2 separate regions of the Homo sapiens genome follow, and region 2 is linked to region 1. The links come from fine-mapping of genetic effects on gene expression. A gene starts in region 1. The other region holds a variant in brackets. All regions are shown on one strand. Distances are between the middles of the regions.

The links. PIP is the estimated chance that this variant, and not a neighbour inherited with it, causes the effect.
Region 2: its variant is fine-mapped to the expression of ARHGAP22 in whole blood (INTERVAL, PIP above 0.99).

The regions. Positions count from the first base shown.
Region 1 is chr10:48,600,410-48,610,317 of GRCh38, forward strand. It overlaps ARHGAP22 (Rho GTPase activating protein 22), which reads right to left and starts at 4,664. Exons shown (of 10, transcript NM_021226.4): 1 at 4,354-4,664. The coding sequence starts at 4,387. RefSeq lists enhancers at 4,085-4,815, 7,782-7,841 and a silencer at 4,672-4,831.
Region 2 is chr10:48,625,568-48,635,475 of GRCh38, forward strand. It overlaps a transcript of ARHGAP22 not described here. Among named protein-coding and RNA genes, the nearest start is that of ARHGAP22, 25 kb to the left of the region's middle. The variant A/T (reference allele first, on the strand shown) is at 5,389.

The sequences.
Region 1 (9,908 bases):
GGAAAATGCTTTATATCTTGATCTTCAGGCTGGTCACTGAGAGAACACTTAAGATTTGTGCATTTTACTCTGTAAATTATGCCTCAATAAGAAAATGTTAAAAATTTTAGAAATAAACAATGAAAATCCCAGAGGAGTATTCAAAAAAAAAAAAAATCAGGCTGCAGTGTGATTTGAGGCCACTCTTGTTCAAAGATCCCCAAATTGCAAACTTTTATTTCCTCGAATCAGGTTCCCCAGGGTTTGTCCTGGACCCTTTGCTGATCTGAGGGCCTCTGCAACTTCATTTCACTTCTGAGCAAATTTTTAGAATGGACTGACAAGAGACAGCTTGGTTCTCTCCATGGGGTGGAGTACCTGGCTAGTGGCAGAGGATGTCCAGGCTTGGGCACCTCTGCTGTCACGGAAGGTTATCAGCTACAAACAGTGGTGCCAGGGCCTGGCCTGGAAGTAGAGACTGCTGGGTGATTCCCTTTGGTCCTCCTTCTCCAGAGCAGGCTCTTCTGAGGCCTCTAGTCCCTGGCTAAGCTCCAGCCCACAGCCTGGATGCACCCTTCCATGAGCAGTTCTAATACGCCCCTTCTTCAGCATATCTTACTGACCATTCTGCTAGACCTCTGTCCTCTCTCTGAATCAGGCAAAGCCAGATGCTGTGTCACCTAATTAGGTGACTGTTCCTTAGCTGCTTCACTCTCAGAGCCATGAAGGTGGTGAGAGTCATAGGGAGCCATCATGGTACCTGACAAACCTGGGCAGGGGCATCACAGCATCGCCAAGGGCACATCCTGGGAGCCACAACATTCATAACTAAGCAATCCCAGGAGGCCTGCTAACCCTATGAGTGTCCCTGAAGGGCAGAATCTTCCAGGGCTCTGAAGGATCCCCCAGTCTGAGCAGGTATGAGGTCAGTTGACCTCTGGGCTGTGATTCCCTAACCACTTTTCAAGTAGTCCTGCAGCCTTGGGGCAAAACCCAGGAGTGTCCTATCCCTTTACTTCCATTCCCCACCCCACAGAGGCAGCCACTTTCAACATTTGTCATTGGTTCTTTTGGTATTACTTCTATGTTTCCAGATAGTATTTATTTATTACCACTTCTTGATTTTTTCCTTTTAAGTGTTATTTATTAACTTCTTACTATAGAAGATGAAGATTTTGTTTCTTTTACACCCTTTCCCCCCACCATCCATAAGCACCCACTCCACCCTCCCAATTAGTTATATTAAAATTTTGGTTAGATTAACAACAGAATTTCCATTATTAGCACCGTTTAATTGCTAGTCCCACTTGAGGTATGTTATATATGATAATAATTTTTCTTTCATGAATCACTTTTGTTTTCTGTGGAGTTCATAATTGCCTTGTTTTTTATTTGCTTAGTTTTCTGCTAGGTATCAATAATCCAACCTCAAACATTCTATGAGTTGTCTAGATCTAATCTCCATGTGTTTAGATGCACCTTCTTAAAAATATCATTGCATTTTATCACTGAAATAATCTACAGCTCTCATGGAGATGTACAGGGCCAGGTGCAGAGGTCTTCAGATAGTGTTGGGTTAGAGAGAAGGCAGAGGCCTTAGCATTGGACAGACAAATTTAGATCCCACATTTATTGGCTGGGCGACCATGATTCTTCTACATCTGTCAAAATGGTAACAATGATATCACATTATAGTGTAGTCATGAGAATTAAATGAGGTACAACAAAAGTGCCTGGAGCATGGGTGCACAATAAATGTTGGTTTACTTTCTTGTGGGACAATCACAAGAATAAGGCCATTGAAGGTACTTCATCATATTAATAGAGCTTTCTCTCCCCACCCCCAAAGTATTGACCAGGCTCTGAACATTCATCAAGGCTCCTGAGACATTGACACTCCTGCTACAGGAGATGGTTAAAGCTCCTATAACTTGGCCCATCAGTCTGATGATTTCCTTTAAAAGAAGGAGCCTCCTTAATAGCATCAACAATTTTATTTTGAAATATTGCAAACAAAGACAGAAATTCTAAAAGGAAAATATATACGAGTTAAAAACAGGTACATCTAGAAAAAAAACCCACTCTAATATAAAAATAAAGGGCAAGCAACAAATTGGGAAAATATTTGCAACATATGAGTCAGTGAAAGATGAGGCCAAATTTCCTAAGTACCGGGCCAGCTTGGGTAGAGACAGTGCTCCAGCCACCCAGGCAAATGCTTTCTCCTCTATCCAGCTATTCATCCACTCACTCAAAAAACACAGGTTGAGTGTCCACCAGGTACCTGGCATTGGGGGTATAATGATGTCCCCGAACAGAAATGGTTCCTGCTTTCACGAAGCTCATGGAGCAATGCAAGTGACAGATATTCACCAATCAGTCACACTCAGGAGTATACAACTGCAACCTATGGTAAATACCATAAAGAAAAGGAGAGATGGAGCAGAGGATCCAGCCTGGACTGGGGTGTGTGGGAAGACTTCCCTGGCTGGCAACACTTGAACTATACTATAACTGGAGGGTGAATAGGAATTAAGGTGTGTGTGTATGTTTGTATGCATGAACGCATGTGCACACACATACAGGCATGCATGTGCGCACATGTGAATGTGGGAGGCATTTCAGGGGAAAGAACGATGTGCAAAAGCCCTATGGTGGAAGCCTCATGGAACACTGAGGACTGGAAGAGGGCTGTATGGCTGGCCTATACGCACTAGATGCCAGTAGCACCCCTCAGTTGGAATAACCAAAAATACTCCAAACAATGCCAAATGTTCTCTAGTGGGGCAAATTGCTCCTGGTTGAGAACCATTGACTTAAAACAAACATTTATGAGAAATCCTGGATTTCAAAGACAGGCTGCCTGTAAGCCCCTTTGCTGAAGCACTGGTCTCTTACTAGCACTGTCCAATAGAAATATAAAAAATATAATATGAGTCACATATGTACTTGTAAATGTTCTAGTAGCTATAGTAAAAGAATGTAAAACAGGTAAAATTAGTTTTAATAATAGATTTTATTTAACCCAATATATCCAAAATACTGTCATTTCAGTAAAATAATTATTAATGAGATATTGTACATTCTTTTTTTGTACTAAATCATCAAAATTTGGTGTGTCTTTTTCTCAATTTGGACTAGTGACATGCCAAGTGCTTAGTAGCCACATGTGGCCAGTGGCCAGCTCATTACACAGGAGTGGGAGGGTGGAACTAAGCTCTCGCAGAGGTATCTGGCTTGTCCTATCCCTTGGGTCATCACTAGACTTGCCCCCTCCTCAGCAGAGCCATGCAAGTTCCTCCTTTGCCCATTGGGGTACACAGGGTTCAGCCCATGCGAAAGCACCCCACAGAGGGGTCCTGACGTCTGTGGAACACACTGGAAGGCTGGTCCCATCCAGGAAAATCATCCAAGTGCTTGCAGTGTGCTAATAAGATGGGTGTGTTCCCTGTGAATCCACAGGAGGCTGGAGGCCCCCCGCTGCAAACACCTGGTGAGACACAAACTGTTTCCAAGCTCCCAGGCAAATGCTCCATCCACCTCCAAAGACCCATCCTCCACTTCATTGTTTACAAAAGGAGCTCAGCCCTCCCAGATACTGGCCACCTGAAAAGACACATTCTATTTTTGTAAAAGACAGATGTTCTCATTCAAAATGACACTTTCCGTGGCTAAGAAGTTGTTGTCCATGGAGATGCTGTCTCTAGCCCCATACAGTGGCCAAGTCTTCAGGTCACTGTGCTGGGTCGCTGGCTGGACACAGGCTGGCTAGCCCAGTCCTGGACTCTCCTGACCCCCATCTCTTGCTGGTCTGAGTCTGCTCCCGCATCCACCCGTCCTGCCCCCAGACCCTGCAGCTTTCTGAGTGTTCTGGCAGGAAAGCCTGCCTGCCCCTGGCCTGCTTGAGGAAATACTGTCTGCAAAGCAGCGGGAACGAAGACCCTCGCTTGCACCCAGCTGTCTCTAGAAGCCAGGGCATGGCCTTCCCTGGTAAGGGGTGCTTCTGTGTTGGCCACAGGGCAAATCTTGGGCATTTCCTTTTTAGTAAAGAAGCAAAGTTTCCTTAAAGTTGCCACCAGGTCACCTGGAGCGACCGAGGGCCTCTGTAAAATGTGGAATGTGGGGCGAAGTGTGCACACCCACTGGGGCACTAAGCCGGCCACCGCCCTTTTGCAACTTCAGGTCGTGTCCCCACCCAGCCCAGGAGTTTCACGAGGAAGGGCACTTCCTCAGGAGGATGCTCACTATTCAGCGGCAATGGTCCCAGAACGCCCGCCCCATGTGACACATGGCGTGACGGCTGGCCAAGTGTCCGCGCACGTTTGCCAAGAGGCACATGCGGTGCCCAGAGAAACCCCAGAAAGTTGGACTTACCCCTCCTGGCCTGCCTGATCTTTGGGCTCAGCATGTTCTTGCAGCCGTCCGGCCAGCCCCGCAGGGCCGTTCATGCTGTCATCCACTTGCTTTTGCTCGTCCTCGCGCCTAGTCGCCCCTCATGTCCTGCTCGTTCGGGGCCCCGTGGCCGCTGGCGTCACCCGTCAGGCTCCCTCGGCTACCTCTCCTGGCTCCGGACGGACGGCTCGCCTTGGACTACATAAACCTCGATGCATTATTTATCCATCCCAGAATTAATTCCCATCCAAGCGGACCATTAAAGCCTCAGTAATCACTGCTGATCAATCACTGGACCAGGGCGGGGCAGTCCCTCCGCCTGGCCTGGGCGCACGCGTGGCTGTCCAAGCTGAGCGCGGGGGCGGGGCGGGGCCGAGAGGGGCGGGGCCAGCCAGAGACGCGGGGCGCGGTCCTGGCCCGGGAGAGGGTACTGGGGTTCCGGCCATCCTTTGCTGAGGCTGGAAGAAATGCGCCTTTCAGCCGCCGCCTGGGAGCCGCACTCCCTGCCAAGCCCGGGTGGGATAGCGCTTTGGTGAGAAGGTAGCCGAGACCCCCCCCCCACCCCAGAGCCCAATCCACGGGGACCCGCTTATGAGCTCACTGTTTTACGTGTTGAAAGTCAGGTGTGTCTGGGAAGGAGCAAGCAGCCCGGCAATGTAAACTCCTCAGGAGACTCCCAACAGGAAGATGCCTGTTAGGGATACTATTTATGCCTCTTTAGTAAGGTGACAGGAATAAGAGGGCAGGAAGCACTTAACTCAGGGCTCTTCATAGGAAGATCTGAATTGAATAGTGAATCTCTGCTAATTGCCATGTTTCTGTTTGATGCTGGCATAATTTTAAAGGGTGTATACTGGGGCTTTGTGAGGAGCGGAATCCAGCCTCAAGATGCTAAAAATTACCCAAGGAATGCAATCATAACAATAGCTATCATTTATTAGGCACCTACTATGTGTCAGGCACTGAGGCTGGTGCTTTACATTCAATATCTCATTTAACTCTCAAACTCCTGAAGCAGGTGCTATATATATAGCGTTTCAAATCTGGAAAATAAGGCACAGCAAGGTTGAATCACCTGCCCAAAGTCATACAGTACCGAGCAGCAGGGCGGGCACCAGAACCCAGGGCTGTGTCTACAGCTCCTGCTGCTCTGTGATGCCAGCCTCTCCACCCTATTCCCATCACTGCATGGTAACAGCTCCTGGCTTGAGCCCCCGATGAACTTGCTGAACGGTGACCTGCCTCTGTGCCCCTGATAATCACTCCGTGTATCCTCTTAGGCATCTGAGCTTGGGTCTGGCTATTTGGGCCTGAGAACTGTGTGACCCTTTCAGTAGCTGGTAAAGAGGGATTTGAACAATGCCCTCCCCTGCTCAGATGGCCATAGCCTCCATCTGACCCTCCACACTCCCTCGAGTGCCCCATGTCCACAGATCCCCAAGTGTCCTATTGGTATGTAATCAACTTTAGCAGCTGTAGAGGGAGAGAGCCCACCAGGAGATCACTGTGGCAGTCCTCCCTAGGGAACAGTGTGCCCTATGGAGAGGGGAGGACTGCAGAGTAAGAAGAAAGACTCACCAGGATGTGGTGAGCCACATGGCCAAGCTGGTGGGAGAAGGTAGAGTCCATGGACACAAAGCTGTCTTACTCAGCATCAAGTCACTTGTTCTGGTCTTCAGCTACTCCTCAGAGGGATGAATGAGTACCTTGGCATAACATTCCAGGTTCTTTCATGGTAGCATCCATGGACTCCTCTCTGACCTATCTCTTGCCGATGCTCTATACAACCATATGCACATACAGCGCCTGCTCCTGTGTGCCCCAGTGACTTTGCACATGCCTTGCTCCTGTGTGTTCCTGTTCTTGCATGTGCAGCCCCTGCTCTCCTGTGCCTCTGTGTTTTTGCACATGTAGCTGTGTCTTTGCACGTGCAGTTCCCTCTCTCTGGAATGCCCTTCCTCACATTGCCTTGTCCTCTTTGGGCAATTCCCCAATGAAATTCTCCTGATTCCACCAGCAGAATGAGCCACTAAGCACTTCCCCTGGGCCCTTATCTATGTCCCTGTACTGCCCCTCTTGTACGCCCTCCCTGAGCCCCAGGCTGACTCAGGCCAGAAGCCTCACAGGAAACTCTGGCTTCATGGGCAGATCCAAGAAACACCACTGAATGACAGAACTGACCTCCTTTTCCTTTAAGGCCAGGTACAAGCCCTGGTTGGGACAGGGGCCACCCATGAGGAGTGGGGAGAATATCAAGCTAGAAAATCTCATGTCGACACCAGGGTCACAGGGCAAGTCCTGTGGCTTGTGACAATGTCTTGAGCAATCAGGAAGCCATTTGTGAGTAATGCAGCCTGGACCACTTCATCCAAGTCAGAGGCAAGGAAATGCCCTGAGACTTAGTCTGGGTCCACTCACGCTTGTTTTGGTTAAGAAACCACCCCCAGGCGCTTTTCCTGTGCAGCTGTTTTCCCTGATGATATTAAGTCACTGTGTTCACTCGCCTGCTTTTCTGGGGATCAGAGCTGGGCTCACACCCCAGAAGTCAGGCTGGGAAAAGGGCAGGAGTTGATCTACGTTCTGCGTCTGAGAAGGCTGGGGGAATGGGGCAGGTGGGCAAAGTAGCTCTTTTCTCCTCTCCAACCTCAGACTGTGCTCTCAGTACTTCCTGAGATGAAGGGTCCACAGAGGCAGGAATTGGAGCCCCTTCATCCTGAAGTTTACCAGCCCTGATCTGCAGGGCCCTGGGAGCCTCCCACTTCCTCTGGGGTGGCCTGTGGGAGGATGGAGTGGGGACAAGGGCAGGGCAAGGGGATCTGTTGAACATGTGACCTCCTATAAGCTTTTATTTGAAGAACCAGCCCTACTCTTCTCACTTATAAGTGGGACACCCAGACCAAGGAGTGGGAGATACAGGTCTAGCTTAGCAGCGGAGACAGATGCCTCCTTCTCCACTGCCCTGTGCCTGCCTGCACGGTGCTGCCCCTTTCCAGCAGTGGTCCTAGGTCTGCCTTCACCTGGCTTCCTGCCTTGAATCATTCAGTATTTTCTAAGGGCTGTTCAGGGACAGAAGCTGAGCACTGAATGGACAGAAGTCTCCGGAAGGCAGAAGGCATCTATTGAAATGCACACCTGTTGGTGGGATGGCTGCCAATCAGCATCAACTGGCCCAGAGCCAGGATACCTTCAAAACAGTAGTTCCTAACCTTGGCTGCACATTAGGGAGCTCTGACAGTGAATTCCTGTGTCCCACCCCCAGTGGCTCTGATTTAACTAGTCTGCAGTGTTTATTGTCATTGGGAGTTGTAAAAGCTCCTCTAGGGATTCAGCCAGGGTTGAGAACCACAGCTTTAGAAGACAACTGCACATGGGGTGTTTGCTGGCTGCCATCCTAAGGGAGATTCTTCTCAGGGAGAGGCACATCTGCGAATAAATCTCCTGGTCAGAAAGTGGAAAGGGCATCTGTCCCAAGCCCCAACTTGAGACAACTCCACCCAGAGCCACAGGTGCTGTTGGATGGTCTGTGCACTGCTCAAAGGTGTCCAGTAGAGGGAGGTAAGGAGGCTGAATTTGGGCTCCATTGGCAAAGCCCTGTGTTCCAGCACAGGGAGGTGGGGAGGTGTGCAGCTAGAGGAGGGAGCTTTCCTCTAATTTGCACAAAGGCGACATATAGATAGCAAAGCCCTGCTTCCCCTGTTCCAGAAGCTGCATGGAGGACCAGAGTAAGCCCTTCTGGAGGCAGAGGAGAGAAACAATGCTACTCTGGCTTTGTGATGCCTGCCCAGGGGTCACCAGCACCTGGGTCCCCAGCCTGCCTGCTTAGTGCACTCTCTGTTCCTGCTGCCAGGAGGTCGATGCCGCAGCTCCCTTGCATGTCACTCAAGGTCTTCATGGGCAGCTCCCACCCTCATACTTTGGTTTCTCCTTCTGTCTATCCCAGTAGTGGGCCGGACCAGCTGGAGAGTACCAATGACATAACTGATTGTTAAATTTTCAGGAGTTTTGTAAGCCAGTTGTTTAGCAAGAACATCATTAGAAATTAATGTATATAAACTTATAATTAAATAAACTATTTAAGACAAAGGTAACAAGCACTAAAAACTCATAATTTCCAAATCATTTTACTACATTTTATTATTCTTCAGGTAATTGACATCTATTGTTTCTACATGGTGGATAATATATACTGGGTTGCTGCCATGCATCTCTTCTCAACTCTAATGTTCAATGACATCATGCTGGTAGTTTGAAATTGAATGTTGTGGGAGTATTTACACCAAGAAAACTAGCAAATGCAGTAAATCAGAGCTTAGATGTCTTGTTTTGTTTTGTTTTTCTTCTACAGAGCTGGTTGTTAAGCATTTGTCAGCACACCTCTGGCCCATTTCCACCACATTCACTCTGTCTGCCCCAGTCACTGTAGACTCCCTGTTCTAGGCAGAGGATGCCAGCTCTCCACCTGAATCTGTTCTCCCCTTCTTCCTGGGAACACACAGATGTTCTACATTTCCAGCATCCTTGCAGTTAGGTGTGACTGCATCCTGGCCATTATACATGAGCAGAAGTGATGTGGTTACTTCTAGGCCTGGCTTCCAGGATTCCTTCTCTTGCTACCCTTCTAAGCTCATTTCCCTTTTCTGGTTGATTGGGATGGGACCACTTTGGAATTCCCATGTAGAATATGGTAGAATCCCTGCAGTCTGGGGCTCTGAATGACTGCATGGAGCCAAGCCCTCACTGTCAACCTGGAAGTATCTTGAGAGAAAGAGAAATTAACTTATACTGTATTGAGTCATTTCATAGTTGGTCCTCTTCATTACTATAGCCGACATTCTCACTGGGTACACACTCCACTCTGCCTGCCCTTTTTTGCCTCTTGAACTTTGATGCATCCCTCTGGACCTTGTTCCAGCACCACCTCCTCACTCAGTGCTGTATGGAGTTCGGCACCTTTAACATTTCCCATTTCTTCCATGCCCAAGGCCACGGGGACCTTCTACAAGGCCTGTTGCGAGATCTTTAGAGGAGTACGAGTTTTTCCTGCCCCCTCACCCATAATTTAAATATCATCTATATACGAAACCTATCATATGCTGAATTAAAAAAATTCTTCCTAGATTTTTAAATTGGGAAACTGTGGGATTCATCAAAGGTGAACTTTTGCTCCACTTTGGTGGCCTTGCCCTGCTTGTACTGTAAGCCTGTCCTTGGTCTTCCTGCCATTGGGCACTTGGGCACTGCAGGCTGCTCTGTCATAGAGGGAATGGCCTTTCTCTCCACCCACTGTTCCTGGCTTCAGCTCTGCTGCCTTGGGCCTAAAGTCTGTCTCCGCCCTTTGGCTCCACCATCTCTGTCCCCTTGCCTTGGCTTTTCATTTCAGTTTTGCCCACACCCTGCAGTCCATGGCATACCCTCCCTTTGACAGCTCAGGACCCCAGAAGGGGTCTAAAGCCTGGACTTCTACCTATCTGGGGTCTTTGTTGTCTTGGGATCCTGAACAGAAGGACAAAGACGCAGAATTAGGCACTAGGAAACCA
Region 2 (9,908 bases), 25 kb after region 1:
GTTATTTTGCATTTTCACCCTGAAACACTTTTCTTCTGTTTAAGGATGTCTGATTCTAGCAGGAGCTAGACCAGACCGTGCTCACATTGCCCCTTTTTGCAAAGGAAGGGCCTCCCTGCAACGTGTACACACACACACACACACACACACACACACACACACACACACACACCTGCTTTGCTGGGCTTTCCTTCTGGGTCAGGTCAAACTCAGAGGAGGGAAGATCTGAATGTGCCTCAGCTTCCATGCTTCCAGGGATGATCTCTGCTCCACACATATCCAAACCCAGCCATCCCAGGACCCTAGCAAAGGAGTGTGTTTATATGTGCACAGGACTTAGCCCTATGACACCATTGTCACCTAGAACAGAAAGTGCTTCCCCAAATGCTCAGCTCACCACCAGCATATCTAGTCCCAAGAGAGACCTGGGCAAATCAACATCCAGTTCTCAAAAGCAGCCATGTCCCTTCTTTGGTAGACTGACTGTAAAAGTCTCCATGAGAGACATGTGGTCCCATCAACCCCATTTTTGGCCCAGCAGCGTGGATACTAGCATACTATTTGAAGCCTTGATATTATGCTGGTTTCTTACACTAACCCTATCCCACCCCTAAATCAGAGCCAATTATAAGAGAGACTCACCCAGGGGGCTTTCTTGATTTTGTCTTTTTCTTGTCCTGATTCCAGACCAGGAGCCCGGCATGGAAACTGGAGAGGTGTTGTCAAGAAACATGCTGAGTGTGAATTGTGAATTCTGATGTCCCCAGGGTCTTAATCTTGGGGACCTCATCAGGACCAAGGACATCTACCCCTCAGTGTCTTTGTGAAAACTTGTGAAAAACAGATGGAGCTTCTAGATGGTGCTGAAATCCAGTAAGCTGTTAATGGTGGCTGCTAGGAGGTGCTACATTGATATTTGTTAAGCATTTGCCTTCAGAATTGAAGCTCTGGCCACTGTTCCAGACCCATGGCACATTCGGAACTTCCTGAATATCCTGGCAGATATTCAACCCTTTCCCTCCATGTGCATTTGCTAATAACAAACTCTGCATGAAGCCCAATATCCAGCCCTGTGGAATGTGCCCTCGCAGGAGACAGAGCCGCCTGTCCCCAGGACACTCATGTGGAGGGTGTGGTACGATGGGAACTAGATATTTGATATTTGTACCAGGCATGAGCTCCTAAAACCCTGGGAATTTCCTGAGTAACAGAAGTGAGGGGAGCATTTTTGGTTATTCAGAGAAAGCCCCTTTCAAAGGCACCTGAGGCAAGGTTAAGGAGGTGACTGTGGGAGAGTGGGAACTGGCTGGGCATGGGGGTGAACCAGCCATGTGATTAGAGGGTTACAAGTTTCAGCCCTATCCTTGACCTCCAGGAAGGAGAGAGGAACTGGAGATTGAGTCCAATCACCAATGACCAATGATTTGATTAATCATGCCCACGTAACGAAGCCTCCATAAAAACCCCTAAATGATGGGGTTCAGGGAGCTTCCGGGTTGGTGAACACATGGAGGTTCTGGGAGCGGGTTGTGCATGAAGAGTGCATGGAAGCTCCATGCCCCTCCCTCTTCCCTGGCCCTACGCATTTCCTGCAGCAGGCTGTCCTGAGTTGTGTTCTTTGTCATTAACCTGCAAATGTCAGTAGTGTTTTCCTGAGTTTTGTGAGTCATTCTAGTGAATTATCAAACCTGAGGAGGGGTTGCAGGAATCTATTAATGCATAGCCAAGTAGGACGGAGTGTGGATGGCCTGGGCACCCATTTTCATCTGAAGTCGGGGAGGTCTTGTGGGACGGAGCCCTAACCAGTGTGGTCTGCACTAGCTCTGGAGAGCTAATGTCAGAATTGAAATGAATTGAATTGAATTGAACTGTTGGACACCCAGCTGGTATTGGAGAATCAGAGAGGGCAAGACAGGTGTCCAAGGATGTCTGTACTCACTCTAGGTTCAAGGCATGGTGGGCAGGGCCTGTCCCATTCCCATCTGGGCTAGCAGCCAGGACAGGGTTTGGGAGAGAGCCGGCGCTCCACACTGAGTGGGGACACAGGGCTGCACAGGGCAGGCCACTGGGAAGCTTGGCTCATGCCCACAGCATCTTGCTCTTCTGGTCAAGTTTTAGTTTCGAATTTCAGTCTCCTCTGATATTCCAAGGGCTTTATGAAAGATCCCAACTGATAATGTGAGGCATGCATTCTCAGGGCCCCTGGATGAGGGTCACTTTGGGCCCGGCCTCTGGTGTGGCTGGCTGAGGTGTGTGGGCACTTCATTCAGGCCACCAGGTGCTCTATTGGACAAGCTATGGGGTCTGGTGTGAGGCTGGCTTAGCCCAGAGGAAGGGGCATCTTTGTGATTTGTAGAAAGGTACTATCTATACTTTGGTTCCTTACCCTGCACAAGAGTTGCTTGAAGTATCAGTCCCAAGTAAAACGTATTAACACAGTGCTCTGAGACTCAAAGAAAGGAGGGCAATGGCCACAGCTGGCATCACAGGGACAGACATCTGGCCTCCTTCTCTTCCTTGCAGTGGGTGAGTGAGTCTATCTTGGGAGTCCTCAGGGTGTCTGACTGGCCACCCTCTGTTCAGGATGGCCCTGCCTTCCAGTTCTGCACTCACGCAGTCTCAGAACCAGCCCTGATGTGGCCAGGAGCATGCTGTGCCTGGTGGCAGGTCTACCATTAGTGCAGATGTTACAGTCCTTGTTTTAGCAGTTAACATTTGCTGAGCATCTACCAGGCACCTACCACACACCAGGCCCCAGTATCTTGATTCACACATATGGCCACCCAAAGATGTCTTGATAATTCTTATTTTAAGAGAAAAGTGAGGCTCAGAGCCAGTGTGTGCAAGGTCACTGGCTAGCAGATGGCTAAGTCTGCTGGGTTGAGTAACACCAGGTGGCTCCTGTCTGTTTCCATAGCAAGGATGTGGGCACAGATGTCCACCATATGCTGCTTGTATGATGGAGTTGACTGCCTGTTCTGTTGGCTCTACCCTACCACCTTGAGGCTCCAAACCACTCCATAGGTCCAGAAATCTGCTTTCAAGGCATTTGATTCCGCCTGGTGACTCCTGTTAGCAAATTTAAAGCATATGAACTTTTTGCAAGTTATCGAGTCATGGCCTTGACAATATAGTCAAAGTATATTAAACCAATAGGATTTCATCACAAAATGGACCTAAACACCTTCCCATTCCCCAGGTGGCCCCTTGGAGTCATCATCTTTGGTGCACATAGGACATGGGGCCACAGTGACATATCTTGCAGTAAGAGGAGCAAAGCTTGCCTTCCCATCCATCAACCTGGGGAGTCTGAGCTGAGAGAGGCCACCACCCTCAAGGTGCAGTGGTGGCCACTGCTGTGACTAAGGGAAGAACACAGTGCACAACCCTGACCAATGTGTCTGCTCCTTGGAGTTTATCTTGCAGGGAAAGGTGCATTCACAGCATTATGTGTAACAGTAAAAATCTAGAGACACCTGGAATGGGCTCTGTTGTGCTTCCCAGATGGCCCAGGACTAGCTCCCAGCTGCTAACACCCAGCCCTTTCAGCCTTTGCCTCCACTGGGAATTTCTCAGAGACACACTACCTTCCTAGGGGCAGCCACCACCAATGGCTGGTCATTATGGGGGCATAGAGGCCTGGTCTTCTTGCCCCAACTTAGGACAGCCTGGAAAGCCCAGCTAACCCTCAGAGCTAAGTATGGAGTCTACTGAGGCTGCTGTTGTGCCTGCATTGCAGTCTGATTTTGCCTTTTGCTCAGTCCTGCTTCCTGCCCTCTCCATGGGTGTCAATCCCAAGGTTTTCTAGATTTTTTCCTGTTTTCTTCTAGAAACTTCATATTTTGTATTTTTGTATTTAGGTCTACCATCCATTTTGAGTTGATTTTTGTAAAAAGTGTAAGGCCTATCCTTTCTCCATTGAATTACCTTGGCTCTCATCAAAGGTCAGTTAGCTACATTTGTGTGGGTCTATTTCTATTTCTCTATTTGATTCCATTCATCCACGTGTCTATCATTTTGCTCATATCACCATGTTTTGTTTACATGTTTATTTTAGAGTAAGTCTTGAATTTAGGTTGCATGCTTCCTTCATTTCTGTGTTGGTTATTCTAGATGTTTTGCCTTTCCATATAAATTTTAGAATCAGTGTGCCAATACCTATAAAATAGCTTGCTAGGATTTTGATTGAGAATTCACTGAATCTATATAGATCAATTTGGGAACAATTGACATTTAAATAATATGGAGTCTTCCAATCCGCAAACACAGAACAGCTCTCCATTTATTTCAATCTCTGATTTTTTTCCATCAATGTTTTGTGGTTTTCTGCAATAGATCCTATGCCTGTTTTGTTAATTTTATAACTAAATATTTCATTCTTTTGGTGCTATTTTAAATGACAGATTTGAAAAAAATTAATTTCAACTTTCAATTGTTCATTGCTGGTGTATGGAAAAGCAAAAAATAGCTTGCTAGGAGTTTGATTGGGATTGTACTGAGTCTATATACCAAGTTAGAAAGAAGTGACTTTTTTTTCTTTTTTCAGACGGAGTCTTGCTCTGTCACCAGGCTGGAGTGCAGTGGCGCTATCTCAGCTCACTGCAACCTCCACCTCCCTGGTTCAAGTGATTCTCCTGCCTCAGCCTCCTGACTAGCTGGGACTACAGGCCCCCGCCACCTCGCTCGGCTAATTTTTGTATTTTTAATAGAGATGGGGTTTCACCATGTTGGCCGGGATGTTCTCGATCTCTTGACTTGGTGATCCACCCACCTCAGCCTCCCAAAGCGCTGGGATTACAGGAATGAGCCACCACGCCCAGCCCAGAAATGACATCTTAACAATATTGAGTCTTCTAATCCATGACAGCGGAACATCTCTCCATTTATTTCGATTTTCTTAGATTTCATTAATCAAGAGTTTTATACTTTTCTGCATAAAGATTATGTACATATTCTGTTAGATTTATAGGTATTTCATTTTTATGCTAATGTAAATGGTATCGTGCTTTTATTTTCAAATTCCAGCTGTTCATTGTTGATATAAAAAAGGCATTGACTTTTGGATATTAACCTTATATCCTGTGACTTGCTATAATCACTTATAAGTTGCAAGAGTTTTTTCCATCAATTTTATGGAATTTTCTGCATAGACAATCCTGTCTTCTGTGAAAAAAGGCAATTTTATTTCTTCCTCCATTCTGTATATATATGGCTTCCTTCTCTTGTCTTACTGCATTTGCTAGGACTTCCAGTACAATGTTGAATAAGTGTGGTGAATTGCCTTGTTCCCAACATAGTGGGAGAACATCTAGTTTCTCACAATTAAGTATACATTTTGCTGTAGGGTTTTTGTGGATGTCCTTTATCAAGTTGAGGAAGTTACCTCTA[A/T]TTCTAGTTTGCTAAAAGTTTTTATCATGAATGAGTGTTGGATTTTGTCAAATGTTTTTTCTGCATTAATTCATATGATCATATGATTTTTCTTCTTTAGCCTGTTGATGTGGTGGGTTACCACATTGTTTATCACATATTAACTACCACATAATAGTTTTTTGAGTGTTCAATCAGCCTTCCATATCTGGAATAAACTCCACTTGGTTGTGGTATATAATTCTTTTTATACATTATTGGATTCAATTTGCTAATATTTCATTAAGGACTTGTTTACATCTATATTCATAAAAGATACTGATGTGTAGCTTTTCTTTCTTGTCTTTATCTGGTTTGGGTATTAGGGTGCTGTTAGCCTCACAGAATGAGTTAGAAACTGTTACCTCCATTTTTATATTCTGGAAGATACTGTAGAGAATTTATCTAATTTCTTCCTTAAGTGTTTGGTAGAATACACCAGTGAAACCATTTGAGAACTAGTGCTTACTTTGTTGGAAAATTGTCATTTATTTAACTTCTTTAATAGTTATAAGCCAATTAAAATGATATATTTCTCCTTGGGATATCAATTATACTTCTTAAAAATATTTTCTTGTTGCAGTAGATTTTGCAATATATATTTACAGCTAATCTGAGTCCACTCTCAAATAACACTACTACTTAAAAAATAGTACAGGTTCCTTATATCAGTATTCCCAGTTCCTCCATCCTGTTCCTTATAATATTACTGACATTCACTTTGGTTATCTACGTGTTATAATCACCCTACATATTGTTGCTATTGTTACTTGGACAAACAGTTACCTGTTAGATCCATTAAGCATGAGAAAAATGAAGACTTTGTTTTACTTTCATTTATTCCTTCTCTGATGCTCTTTCTTTATGTAGATCTGAGTTTCTCACCCATCATTTTCTTTCTCTCTTTTAACATTTCTTGTAGGACAAGCAATGAATACTCTTGGTTTTTGTTTGTCTGGGAAAGTCTTTATTTAGTCTCACTTTTTTTTACAATGAAAATTATTTTTCTATTTCAATACTTTTGGGGTACAGGTGGTTTTGGTTACATGGATGAATTCTATAGTGGGGAATTCTGAGATTTCAGTGCACCTGTCACTCGAGCAGTGTACACTGTACCCAATATGTAGTCTTTGGTCCCTCAACCTCCTCCCAACCTTCCCCACGAGTCCTCAAAGTCCATTATATAATTCTTACGCCTTTGCATCCTCATAACTTAGCTCCCACTTACAAGTGAGAACATATGATATTTGCTTTTCCATTCCTGAGTTACTTCACTTAGAATAATGGCCTCCAGCTCCATCCAAGTTGCTGCAAAAGACATTATTTCATTCCTTTCTATTAGCCTTCACTTTTGAAGAAAAATTCCAGTAGTTATGCAATCCTATGTTGGTAGGGAGTTTTATTGCAGCAGTTTTAATGTACAAACTATTCAACATATTTTTTTTTCAACAGTTGAAATATTTCCCTTCACTCTCCACTTGCTTGCATGACTTCTGTTGTGAAGTCTGATATAATTCCTATCCTTGTTCTTCTAAAGGAAAGGTGATCCCCATACCCCTGGCTTCTTTCAAGATTTTCTCTGTCTTTTGTTTTCTGCATTTTGAATGTGAGACACCTAAGATGTGTATATTTTTTGTTTTTATCCTGCTTAGGTCTGTGGTTTGTTTTCTGTCACTGCCTGGAGTTGGCCAACTCCAAGTTTAGAGTGCACACAGGTCTTCACAAGACCAGCCTCACTTCCAACACCAACTGCAAATTGGGGGGTGTTCCCAAAACCACCCAGGCTAGGAGCTGTGCCGTCTTTAATATTTGCTGTGTCTGCAGATGCCAGAGCGAAATCATTGATTTTAAGTTTGCACAGATTTTACCTTGTTGTAAGGATGAGAGTGAAAATGTCTAAGCTTTTCACATGTCAAAGATGAAACCAGAAGCCAGAGTCTTTCCATTTTCATCACTACTGCACAACGCTGACTATTCTTTTCCTTCATCTACCCCTGGAAGATCCTGAGTCACCTGCCAGAGGACATCACCTGCCACACGGAGGACATCAGTGGACAGTTCCCTCAGGCCTTTCCATTGGATGATATGAGAAGAGCATGAGCTCCAGAAGGTAAGAGTTTTTGCCAATTATGTTGCCTGCTGTATTCCAGTGCCTAGAGCAGTGCCTGGCACAACTCATGTTTGCTGGGTGACTGAATAAATTATCAACCCTTAGGAAACTTTTGAGATCATTTCCCAGGCCTGTCCACCTTTAATGGCCCCAGTCAGCTCTCATTTCTGCAGACAATCTACCTTCCTCTGAGACTCCCAGGTCTGAGGTTTGCAGTGACTGCATGCTGGAGAAGTAAAACTGGGAGAAAGCTCCAAATGTAGGGTTCCTGTGTCCAGAGTCTCCATCATATCACTTGGTTTTCAAAAAATTCCCAAAGGAAACAATTCTCAGCCAGAGATTAACAGTGGCATCTGATTGTTTGTCTGGAAGGGAGTTCCCACTTATTCAGGGTTTACCCTGTGCCTTTCCTTGAACTCTTTTCTTTTAATTAGACATGTAATCCTTATTACAGTCTTGTGAGATATGGCCTATTGTGGTCTCACTTTTACAATGAGGAAATGAAGCAGAGAGATTATATCACTTGAGTAAGGGCATAGAGTAAGCAGGTGGTAGAACCTGGATCCACACCCAGGCCTGGCTTTCTCTAGACTGTTTTTACATTTTGTGGGAAAATGATGCCAGCAGCAGGGAGGGAGGGCTGGCTTTCCCTGTGGACTTTCCACAAGAAAATCCCTGTTGACATCCATCTGCAGAAGGAGATGGGCAGGTTAATAGAGACAGGATCATTCCACGGGGCTAAGAGGAGGAGGGAGCAGAGGGCTGGGCATGGGAGGAGGGAGAGCCTTTCCTAACTGAATGCTGGGCCAAGCTGGCTGCGGGATGCCCTGACTCCTGGAAATCTCTGGGGCAGGTGTCTGAGAGTTGACACCATGGGCATCTATGCCCTATGTTCTCCCTCACCTTCTTCCTGGCCACCAGGATGCTGCTTCCTCCCACGCTTGTTTCTATGATAACTGGCAGGAAGTGTTATCTGCTAGCCAGCTCACCTGTTGAGAGAAGCCAGTTTGCACTAGTAGCTCAGTAGTATCATGGGTAGCTGAATGGGTACTTTCAGATTTGGGTGGCGGATTTGATGGGAGCAGCCAAAAGGTGCCATCAATGTCCCTAAAAGCAGAGGTACTGCTGTGAGTGAGCACTAAAGATGGGTCAGCTCAGATCTGGGTTGAGTCCTGTCTGCCACTAACTAGCTGTGAGCTTTTGGCAAGTCAGTAAACTTCAGATCTTCTGCTTCCTCATCTAGCCAACAGGGAAAAGTGCTCTGCCCCCACAGAGCTGGGCCATAGGAGAGGATAAGCTGCTGGGTGCAGAGGGCGGTGAGCCTGCACTGTGGTTTGCCCATTTCACAACCATTCCCAGAGTCAAATCATTTCTCCCAGATGTGCAGAAACAGAAACCATTGTAGGAAACTGGGTCTCTAAGAAGAGCCGCTGACTCAGCCCTTATTTGGTTCTGTGGCTGGGGGTGGGTGAGCCTGGGCTTCCGCTTGGCTCCCTAGAGGGTAGTGTGGCTGGCAGGGCATCTGTCTAGACACTCTCTGAGGCTCTGCCCAGCCTGTTCTTTGGAATAGACTCTCCTCTGCTTCTCAGGGCTGACAGCTCTGAGCCCAGGAAAGCAAGAGGGCTGAATTGTGTCCCCCGACTCCAGTTCATGATGAAGCCTAACCCCCACCGCCCCATACAGAAAGTGGCTGTATTTGGAGATAGGGCCTTTAAATATCAAAGTTAAAATGAGTGATTAAGTTAAAATGAGGTCATTAGGGTGGGCCCTAGTCCAATATGACTAGAGTTCTTATAAGCAGAGGAGATAAGGACACAGATACCAACTGTGTGAAGACACAGGAAGAAGGTGATATTTACAAGCCAAGGAGAGAGGAGAAAGAAGCTTGCTAACACATTGATCTTAGACTTCCAGCCTCCAGAATGGGAAAAAATACATGTATGTTGTGAAAGCCCTGGGGCCCGAGGTGCTTTGTCATGGCAGCCCGAGCAGACTCATGTACCTGCCCTCCCTCTTCCTCAGTGTGAACAAGGGAATTCCAGCACCCATGGGAGGCTCTTGGAGGCTAGGCTCCTTCTGGGTCCACCGTGAATGAAGCACTTCACCTTGTTTCTGGGCCTCTGTCTCTTGTTGCCCCCACCCCCACTTCTGCACTGGGCCTGGTGTTTCCCTGGACCCCGACTCCCTGTCTCCTCAGGCATGACTAGTTTCATACTCCTCCAAGGTTGGTAAGAGAAAAATGCCTGGGGTTTAGGTTATAGCTTGAAGCACAGCTTTGGGTGCTCCGTAACTTGTCCCAGCCCCTTGGCCAGCTCCAAGTTCAGCCACAGCTGTGGTGAAACGTCCCCTCTTAGGTGAGCCCACTGATGGCTTCCCGCTCCAGGCTCTCAGC